2 separate regions of the Homo sapiens genome follow, and region 1 is linked to region 2. Evidence: fine-mapped QTL for protein levels in blood plasma. Region 2 holds a variant in brackets. A gene starts in the other region. All regions are shown on their reverse strands.

Region 1 (5,387 bases), not on the chromosome of region 2:
ATGGGGCAAAAAAATCATTTAATCATTCCTGGCTTAGGAAGCTGTGCCAGAGAAAATTAATTAATTGCCAAGATGATGACCTGTTTTTCCCCAAAGTATAAATTCCAGATTTATGGAATCTCTGCCTTGAGTTCATATAATTACAATACACCAGTTAACATTATATGTCAGTATGTGTAGCCCAGTACTTAATACCTAGCTGAATGGAAAATAGGTTCTGAAAATATATATATACATATTTCTTAAAATATGTTTGCAGACTTTTTTACTTTTACATTAGTCATCATTTCACTTCTGCTTCAATATGCCCATGCGTGTCCAGACGAGACTGGATGCATCATGGTGGTGTGGCCATAGATGCCCCTGCATATCCAAAGACTCAGCTCTATTTCTTCCACTCCTTTTTATTTTCTTTATTGTCCATGTGAATTTTAAAAATTTGTCCTTTTTGACATGTCTTTTGTCAATTCAAACACATTTACCAAAAGGTCAAGATTACAAAATTTTTGCTTGGCAATAGCTGCACATCTTAAGCTTTCATATTTGGGCAAGCGTCCAGTAAACGCCTCTGACCACATCCAGCTTTAGTGTCACAGCTTGAAGCCAGCAACCTGCCAAGCACTCTGTTTCTAACCACAAGTTGGCTGCGTGTTAAGTCTTTCCTGTGTACCAGAAGAGAAGGGTTTTCTGAGGCCACAGTGCGAGTTAGCTTACTGACCAAAAAGGCCGGTTGATTGTTGGCTCTTCTCAACTAATGAAAGTAATTAAATAGTTTATTGTGGTGATGGATGTTCTCAAATGACTTGAGCCCAGGCTGTTTGCAAAATATTGTAATTTTTCTTCTAACAATAGTTTTTGAAAGTTATATAGATACGTCTATATGAAGTTTGTTCAGGTACTTTTATAGTCAAATTATTCTTTCTGCAGAAGTTAATTGCGTTGGTTTTATTTCACTTATTAGAAAGTATTTTATCTGAAAACTATGCTATGTCCTTTTGCAATTCACATAGAATAAACCAGTACAAATGCCCAGCAAATCCCCAATAAGTTTACTATCATGACTACAGCAAAGTGAGTGTATGTTCAACATTGAGAAAGAAATTGGAGTTTTAACATACTATTTCTTTATCTAACTAATTGTTTTAACCCGACATACAGGACCCATTTTAGAATTTTCTTCTTTAAGAATCCTTTCCACACTCTGTCAGTTGGTTTAGGGACCTTTATATATGACAATAAAACTCTCCCTGGTGCTTAGCTTTATCATGGTATTTATTTCAGAAATCTTCTTTTAGGTATGTGTGGGGACTTCCCAGTTGGCTGTAAGTTGCCATTTGAACTAAACGAAATAGGTAGGATATTCAAATGTTCTTTTTTATCCTATTCCTATCCCCCTTTTCTCAATTCTGTATTTAAGAGACAATCTCTATTCAATCGAAAACTACATATATAAAAATAACTCTTCAGGAAATTGTGATTCAGGTTTTTCCCATAAAAAGCCTGCATTTACTCATTTATTCATTTCCTTTCAAAAACCAAATATTTGTTAAAATGTAGTTGTTAGAAAATATCAGCCTATATTTCCTCTATATAGATCTATTTTTACTATATAAAATAGCTAATAGAAAATGTTGATTAGCTGAAAAGAATCTTGGTATGTCAGAAAATAACATATTTTCTTCAACTTGTTTTATATTCACCTATCTTGTTTAATTTTGAATTTGTTTTATACTTATTCATTTTATATCACCTAAACTAAAAAGTAATTTCCAGCTGGGTGTGGTGGCTCACGTCTGTAATCTCAGCACATTGGGAGGCTGAGGCAGGAGGATCACCTGAGGTCAGGAGTTCGAGACCAGCCTGACTAACATGGTGAAACCTCGTCTCTACTAGAAATACAAAAATTAGCCAGGTGTGGTGGCACATGCCTGTAATCCCAGTTATTCTGGAGGCTGAGACAGGAGAATTGCTTGAACCCAGGTGGCGGAGGTTGCAGTGAGCCGAGATCGCCCCGTTGCACTCCAGCCTGGACAACAAGAGTGAAACTCCATCTCTTAAAAAAAAAAAAAAAAAAAGTAATTAATTTCCATGTGGGCAAAAACTTTCTTTTGGATTGTTTACTTTGACATTCTCAAGATCTAGAAAAGTGCATAGCAAATAGCATTCGCTAAAGAAAAAAAATGTTGAATAAATTTATTGTCCAACTTTAACACATCACCACATGAAAGCTGTTTTCCTTCCTTATATTTCAGAGTTTTAAGATTAATAGCTTTGGTTTTTGTTAAAATGTTATAATGTGTTCATCTTATATTACTTTATATGATGTCTTATGTTAGTATTTTAAATTAATAAACATAAAATATATATTTAGCTTATCTTGTTCATTGGTATCAATTCATATATTATTCTTATGTATACTGGGGTATATATTTAAGTTTCTAATTCTCCTGCATATGATGTAGATATGACAGAGATGCAATTTCATGTTTTTTATATTAAAATTTAAAAATTCCCAGGACTAATTTTTTGTAACTTAAAGGCCAGTGTGATAGTAACCCAGGACAAATTATTGAATAGGAGCTAATTTCCCACTTTATCTGCAATGTTACCTTATATTTTTTAATCTATGCACATGACTTTTTCTTGTCTGTATTTTTACCCTTCTCAATTTGTCTATCTATGCCCCACATGCCACTTTGCCTTTATTAATACGGTTTTAACATAGGTCTTACTATCTAGTAAAACAAGGCTCCCACATTTTCTTCATCTTCAATTGTGACTTTCCTAGTCTTGACTTTTGTAATTTAATGTACATGTAGAATTCTGCTTTGTAAGTTCTACAACAAAACCTGAGGTATTAACTGGAATTGAATTGAATCTCTAAAATATTTAGGATTAAATGGCATCATTTAAATTCATCATTTTCAAATCCTAAAATGTTATTTAAAATAATGGCAAAACTACAATTACTTTTGCACCAACCTAACATTTATCCAACAATGGGTGGTCTTAACTCTTTTACCAAATTAACAATATTTTTGTAGTGATAAGGCGGAAGTACTGTGGTTTATGTTTTTCCACAGGAAGATGAGATTATAATATTTGTCACATCTTTCTCAAAGATAGAAATTCACTAAGTATCTCCACTTTCAATTCTAGATCAGGAACTGAGGACATATCTAAATTTTCTAGTTTTATAGAAGGCTTTTATCCACAAGAATCAAGATCTTCCCTCTCTGAGCAGGTGTGTGTATGTGTGTATGTGTGTGTGTTTATTATTCAAGATATGAGAAATTATATTTCAACCTCAAAAAAATAAAAATATTTACACTATAAGGTAATTCTAATTGTTTCTTAGATGCTTGAATAGAACTCCTGAGGATACGGAATGCTTATCATTTCTGATGTATATTCTATCACTGTATCTGATGATAGGTAATTAGGATATACTTATTGAAGAATCAGAAGTTGTAATATTACTATAAGAAGAAGCCTTGTCTCTAAGCAAAACTAGAAAAATGAATCTTTACATTTAGGATGAGAAGAATTGAGATTCAATTTAAATTGTCAAATTTTTGAGTTTTCTGATGCTGTAGGGGGCACTTACCTTTGATACACATCTTTACATGCAAGGTGAAACAAGTTATATCTGTGCTTTCCAACTATCATAATCAAATATGAAATAGCTTTTATTTTTGAAATCTAAGCACTATGCTTATTTATTAAATGGTTTTTTCTGGAAGCTCTGCTGTGCATTGCTAAGATGTTACTATATAAACATGTGAGATTAGTTTTGTTAATGATGATGGTGATGATAATTTGTTGATGATGATGATATGGGCACGTTGGATTAAAATGCACTAGAAAAGGACATTCAACAAAAGTGCATATAACTTACCTGAGTTTAGCTTGCAGAAAGAAAACTAAATTATTGCCAGATAAAATAAACAACTGGAAACACTTGATCTTAGCTAAAAGGCCAAGAAGCAATAAACGACTATAAACAGAAAACTGGGTGTGTTGTTATCTAATATCAGTAAAGTAAAATATTGGTATTAAATATCTCAATGTAGGTGAATTAATAGGTTCATTATATTGTTATGACATTTTGAAGTAATTGGCGATTATTTTACAACCAAGAGAAATGTATAAAATTAATTTTGCCTGGCTTTATGTGAATTGTCATTTCTATTCTTTTCTTAAAGGCATGCACAGGGGAAAAGTTTCTGCATTTTACTTTTCTATTCAAAATATTTTATCTCACCACGGGAAAGAGAACAAAAAACAAATGCCCAGTTTTATTTTATTCAGGAATCCTTTGTGCATTGAAGACTTTAGATTCCTCTCTGCGGTAGACGTGCACTTATAAGTATTTGATGGGGTGGATTCGTGGTCGGAGGTCTCGACACAGCTGGGGTATGTTTTTACCACATAAGTGTGTAGTTTTGTTTTTATACAATTTTAAGATACCAAGAATTTCATACAAGCATATAAGGCATAGGCAAGCAATTTACTCTGATTCTTTTCATGTTCTATTTATGTTGATTTCATGTTATGTTCATATTGTATTTTAAATCAAGTCTTCCAAAACTTAAAAACTTTTTTCCCTTTATTTTATTAACTATATTATGGTAAAGTCGCTCACAACTTGGGACAGCTTGAAATAGTGAAATAGATGTGGAGTCAGACTTGAATTTTACTCAAACTTTTACCGCTCTCTAGATTTGAAGGGTCAATTTGCAACCTCTGTGTAGTTTAGTTTAGTTTCTTTTTCTATCAAATACAGGCATGAAACATTCCATATTTATCTTAGATTTGTGTAATATTCAAATCAACTGACATGTATGTTAAAGCACTTTTTATCCTAAAGGTGTTTATAAATTTATAACTTATTCACAGTTGGTAACATTATATTAAATAAGCTTTATGATTTTGGCCATCTCTAGCATTCAATTTCTTCATCCATAAAGTGATACCTACTCTCTTTACTCCATATGTAAAATAACTGAGTTAGGTATTACATGCGCAATCAATGTCTAATTTTACCTATAAAATATAATTCATATTATCATTTAATTTATAAAAGGCTTTTGTACAACAAACCCCCGTGACATGAATTTACATATGTAACAAACCTTCGCATGCACCCCTGAACCAAAAATAAAAGTTTAAAAAAGGCTTTTAAGTAAATATTAATCATCAGTAAATAATTAATATTTCAAGAGAGCAAAATGATTCTTTAGGTATTTTGTTCAGAGGCAAGATTATCTGTCTTTGTTCTAAATCATTAGACCCCACTATTTTAGCCTATGTATGTCCTTCATTATAAAGAAAATTAGATGGCTGGGCACAGTGGCTCATGCCTATAATCCCAGAAATTTGGGAGG
Region 2 (5,387 bases):
GAGTCACAGAGAAGCTGGCTTTCTCCTGTCTTACAGGACCCCCAGCAACAAGGATGTGATTAACAAGCCTTGAGAGTGACTCCAGAAGCCTGCCACCACAGTACCCCTCATGGTTCCACTGCAGTCACACCTCCCGTGTGTGCTCTCATGGTGCTGAAGGGGTGGAGTGGTGGAATTTTCTATGAATTTGCTCATCTGAGTGGGCCCCGCAGGAAGAAGCCCAGCTTTCTGGTCCTAGTTCTATTGCCGGCTGACTAGCTATGCAATGGTGGCTAGTCACTTGTTTTCCTGTCCCTCCTGCTTTTCCTGGTTGTCAGATGAATGTTCTGGCTTATGCCATCTTCAAAATCTCAATGTTTTTGTCTTTGCAGGGGAATCTGACCTTGGTTCAGCCATCTGATGAACCAAGTTCATCTCTTGCATCTTCTTGGCAGTCTGTCTATAGAGCATCTTCTCAGGTTAGGCAAGGTGGAGCTATGTGATTGAGGGAGGGGCTTTTGACTTGAGTCAAAATTAGGCTGCCTGGGACAATCATGGACCATGCCTGCCATACAAGCTGCATTTTTAATGGTACCCCTTTAAATATTTGTGCTCAGATCTCAATTACCCTTGACAATGTAGAATGCAACATTGGAATGTTTGACAATGCAGGAATGCATGCAAAATATAATTTTAAAAAATATCAGCTGGGCGCAGTGGCGTATGTCTGTAATCCCAGCACTTTGGGAGGCCGAGGCGGGTGGATCACCTGAGGTCAGGAGTTCAAGACCAGCCTGACCAATATGGTGAAACCCCATCTCTACTAAAAATACAAAAAATTAGCCAGGCATGGTGGCAGACACCTGTACTCCCAACTAGTGGGGAGGCTGAGACAGGAGAATTCCTTGAACCCAGGAGGTGGAAGTTGCAGTGAGCTAAGATCACGCCACTGCACTCCAGCCTGGGTGACAGAAGAAGACTCTGTCTCAAAAAAATATATATCATATTTGGCCCAGATCTACGTTTTTTGCCTCCAACAAGTTTTCATGAGGTTAAGTTAAATGTGGGAATTTATTTCAGACAGTCTGCAAAGTGGATAGCTCACTAGAGCAAACATACAATCACCTGCAGGCTGACTGTAGTCAAAATAATCTACTGTCACCCTGAATAGGTTTTCTCACATAACATCTACAAAAACCCAGCATACCATTGTCACACCCACATGGTGCCTTCTGATATGTGACATTAGAAAACCTCAATCTCCTAAAAAAAATCATAAAATAGTTTCAGTATATATGAACTCGGCACACGTTTTTGTTCAGTGAAACTTCTTTCTTTGATGATGCCTGTTCAAATATTTGCAAATATTGAGAAAACGCCCACATAAATCATCCTCTGTTGCTGAGGCCACACAGTCTGCAGAAACCAACAGGTAAGACACAAAATACTGAACGCCACTGGAGGTCACGCAAATTCCAGGAAACCTCAGGCCATCTTAGCCTTCCTCTCCCAACCCCAATCTGTTAGTTTCTAACCGAATGTGCTAGAGAAGCCAGCCAGAGCACCATGAAAGTCAGCAAGAAGGTGAAATGGTGAGAGGAGGAGGGGCCTTTGGTTACATCTCTTTTCACCTCTCACTCTAGATGTGAAGAAACTCAGAGGGGGCTGCGGCATCCCAAGTCGGGGAGGCCATGAGGACCACTAGAAGCAGGCCTGGAGGTGTGGTCTCTGGGGCTGGGCTCTGTCGCTGCCCTCTGTACCCCAAAATGCCTCTGAGATGCCCATGTAACCTCCAGGGGAGCCCAGGAGCTTCACCTCCTGCAAATGGGGAGAGATGGACAGTAGGAGAAGAACAAGAGAGAAGCAAGAAGCAAATGGTAGGAGAAAACACAGGATAGAGGGAAGAAAGACCAAAGGCCGGTGAGCAGAGAAAAGAGGTGAGCATCCAGGGCCCAAGAGCTGCTTCAAGGTCATGGAAAGCCAGCCTGCACCTGGAAGGAAAGGTCCTTGCAGAATAGAACTTAAAGCAGGAAACAGAGAATTAAGCGTGGCAAACAAGAAACGCCCATGTGCCTGAATCTATATCATTCTAAGTCAGTGTATCAGACGCCCAGGACTCTGAAAAATCAGGGTTCCCAGACAAACCCAACACTTGGTATGAGCAGCGCTTCTTTATTATAAAACTAACATCACTGAAAGCTTTTTTTTTTTTAAAGACCAAAAATATCACATCTTAGGCAAATGAGTTGAAAATCCCTCAGAGTGACACCCTATTTTTTTTCCACCCATTTCTAAAGTCAGAGGACACCTGGTAAAGAAGCTGGTTTTTAGATAAAGAAATGCAATTCCTGGTGCACGCGGTTTCCTGGTGGTA[C/T]AGCACTGAAGTGACATCATGGAAATATTTGTACCTCAAGGTCAGTCTGCAAGGTTTCTGTGTGAAAGCATGAGTCTTAGTGGTGGGAAAGTATGTGTGTGCACCTTTGTGATCTGCTGCTGTTTACTGCTCTCTGCTTCAAAGACAAAGTTTTAATTAAATCCAGGTGGGCAGCTTGCCAGGGTTTTCCACACTTTTGGCTCACCTAGGTAGGCAGCCTAAGTGCAGGTTATACCATTTGGAAATGCCTCTGCTCCTGTCACTTGGAAGGAAATAAAACAACTGTTCCTTGGGGCGGGGGGTTGGGGGGAAGAAGCTTGTCTTCCACTCAAGGGCAAGGAATCTATGACATAAGATGCTCATTCTGGTGGTGAATATGAACAGTCTAATTTGTGTAGCATTCCTTAAGGTGCCAAAAGTAGGAAGCAGCAGACTGGGAACGTATGGAATCCTTTGTCTTAATTAAAAATATAGTGGGAGATGTGGAATTTGGCCAAGCCTCATAAATCTGCTAAAAAAGCATCAAGACTCCATCAGATAAGTTTAAATAGAACCAACTGAGCCCTCTGGAGAGTTAAACAGATTCCCCACTCATGTGGACACCCACTCTCCTGTCACTTTCCCGCACTCCGCAGGCAGCAGTGGTGCTCGTTAACCAGCAACCCTCCAATTCGCCTATGACAAGCTTATCCCCCTGGAGCACACGATTCAGACATGATAAATTTACTCCCGCTTGTAAAAATGAAACTCTCCTCAGGGCAATAAAAACGCTCTGAGCCTTTAGGAAATAAGTTCTTTATCTGATAACCTACCTTCATTAACAAAGTCTGGTCCTCTTGGTCAGGACAGCTCTTCACTGCTAGGGAGAACTGCTCTAAGGTAACTGGAAGGGAAGAAATGGAAATTGTGAATGACTTCACTTCCGCCTCAGAGCCCTTCTGATGTGAAGGAGGACACTGTGGTTATAACAGACGTAAACAGCATGCTGTCCGTCCTTCCTTGGTGACATGGCAGAGCTCCCCAACTGTCCCCTGCATGGGTCAGGGGCCCCCGTACAGTGACTTCTCCACCCCATCAGACAGAGTCATTACAGTAGAGTACAAGGCCATTCCCATCAGCAAAGCTCCTCCCTAAACTGCCAGGAGGTCCTGGGTTCAGCTTCCTTTTGGGTCATCTTGTCCCCAGAGATGACACTCTATCTCCATTTCCTGGGACCTTCATTGAGAAGACTCCACCTGCCTTTGTAAATTTGACAGTGCTAATTTAAAAAATCTCAATCTTCCATCATGATTTCCATGGCTTTAACTCTTCTCTTGGTGTATGGCCCCAAGTGTTGACTCAAACCCCACAAACTCCCCCAAATATATAAAGTCGTCTTTCTCCAACCAACCTTCTCAAGGAGAATAGGGAAGAGAAACCCAAGAAGATTTACGAGAAAAAAAAAAAGTTTTAGTAATCCATTGAAATTGGCCATGAAAGCTCTAGGAATATTAATCTAGAAAATTTACAAAATTACATTCCCCTTCTCATATTTATGGCCAGGTTCTCATCAAAGGCTCACTTATGTGGTGACCAATTTTTATTTTGGTGTAAGTCACAGACTGCCCTCCTGTAGGCTGTGTTGACTACATTGTTTCATGCTTGAAAATGCTCCCACAATTCTCTGCCACCCTCAGATTTAAAACCACTTATTTGACACGCATTAAGGCTTTTACTAAGTTAACCCAACTAGTTTAGCCTTTGATTGCTATACTCAAAGCTGCGTTCACTCTTTACCCTCTATGACCTTTCATTGCTCTCTGCTGGGAAGAGTTCTGCCTCTTGTCTTTGAGTAGAGCAAAACTCAGTCCTCCAACTGAACATCCCAAGCCCACCCATCCAGCCAATAAAGACATTGATTGCCCTCTGGTCCCATCCCAACTCCCGCAGATCCCACAAAGGTGGGCAGAGCTAAACTCAGCCTCAAGGCTGAGGGACAGTCTGATTCCAATGATTTGACCTCAAGCATGCCTGGATGTCATGTCTACAAATACAGATATTTTAAAGAGAACTATATCAGCAATGATGAATTTTCATCAAGAAAATATTGTCTGGGTAGGTTGTTTGTAGTTTTCAATGTTACTCTAAAATAGAATTCCTTAGACTGCTTTCATCTCTGACTAAATTACTCCATGCCATCTTGACTGCTATCAGTTGTATCTGGTGCTGATTATTTCTTCCAAGTTTAAATTTTGCTCTATCCAGTCAAGACATACTTGGGATCCATAGAGAGATCAATGTTGCCTTCCACATGCTCTCCAATGCATATACCCACCCAGTCTTCAATTGGCAGAAACCAGTGTTAATTACATAGAATCATCAATTTAATCTTTTTTAAAAATTAACTTTGCCTATAAAAGTGGCTCAGCAGAAACTTGTACATTGAGATAAGGGCCCAAGCTGTGTTAAGTTTACACGAATGCTTTTGCTGTCACTCATTCAGAATACACCTGCCTGGGAAAGACCCTGGAGGCAAGACCTCTCTCCCTCAACTCCGTCCTCAGTTTTGGACTTTTGCTGTGATCTGATTTGGTGTGATAACATATTGATCTCTGACTACTGTCTGAGGATGGCTAAAGAATAATCTACAAATTCAGGTGCTAGGTTTTCTTTAGATCACCTTTTTAAGGTGGCTATTTTATTTGGTAAAGGTTTATGCTGTAACTTAGAATCTTACTTAGTGCAGGTCAGGGAAATTGAAACACTTGCTTCCTTAGAGAGCTACTGGATTCTCACTGACAGCTCTCTCCTCTCTGTGGTGACCCTGTGTTCATACTTCTCACTGCCTGTGCACTGGACTCCACTATGATACTTTTCGTTATCATAGACATAGCACCCACTTCAAGTTACCTTGAACTCTGTACATCCAATCCAAACCAGTCAACTTCCATACCAAGCCAGCCCTTTCCAACTTTTTCCCATTTCTGTGGGACTATCATCCTCCAGCCACCAGGCCACTGAGCCTGATTCTTTGATTTCTCCCTCAGGACCCCAT

Which allele goes with the higher level. Alleles are on the strand shown, and positions count from the first base shown. The strength of an association depends on the size of the effect and on how common the allele is.
As copies of C replace T in region 2, the plasma level of the protein whose gene starts at base 3,146 in region 1 goes up (moderate association).

What was found. PIP is the chance, under the fine-mapping model, that this variant and not a neighbour inherited with it causes the effect. Protein levels are from antibody-based Olink assays in UK Biobank. Linkage for the fine-mapping came from a reference panel and not from the study's own genotypes, which makes the PIPs less certain.
Region 1: KLRK1 starts here. The variant in region 2 is fine-mapped to the plasma level of the KLRK1 protein (UK Biobank, PIP 0.97).

What each region holds. Positions count from the first base shown.
Region 1 is chr12:10,387,800-10,393,186 of GRCh38, reverse strand. It overlaps KLRK1 (killer cell lectin like receptor K1), which reads left to right and starts at 3,146. Exons shown (of 8, transcript NM_007360.4): 1 at 3,146-3,244; 2 at 4,312-4,416. The coding sequence starts at 4,377. KLRC4-KLRK1 (KLRC4-KLRK1 readthrough) reads left to right here. Exons shown (of 13, transcript NM_001199805.1): 6 at 1,296-1,352; 7 at 4,312-4,416. The coding sequence starts at 4,377. The region is part of intron 3 of KLRK1-AS1 (KLRK1 antisense RNA 1); the gene reads right to left.
Region 2 is chr2:111,047,067-111,052,453 of GRCh38, reverse strand. It overlaps ACOXL (acyl-CoA oxidase like), which reads right to left. Exons shown (of 18, transcript NM_001142807.4): 16 at 3,166-3,236. It overlaps LOC124907866 (a long non-coding RNA gene), which reads left to right and starts at 2,277. Exons shown (of 2, transcript XR_007087182.1): 1 at 2,277-2,393. RefSeq lists a silencer at 2,308-2,602 and an enhancer at 2,308-2,602. The variant C/T (reference allele first, on the strand shown) is at 2,354.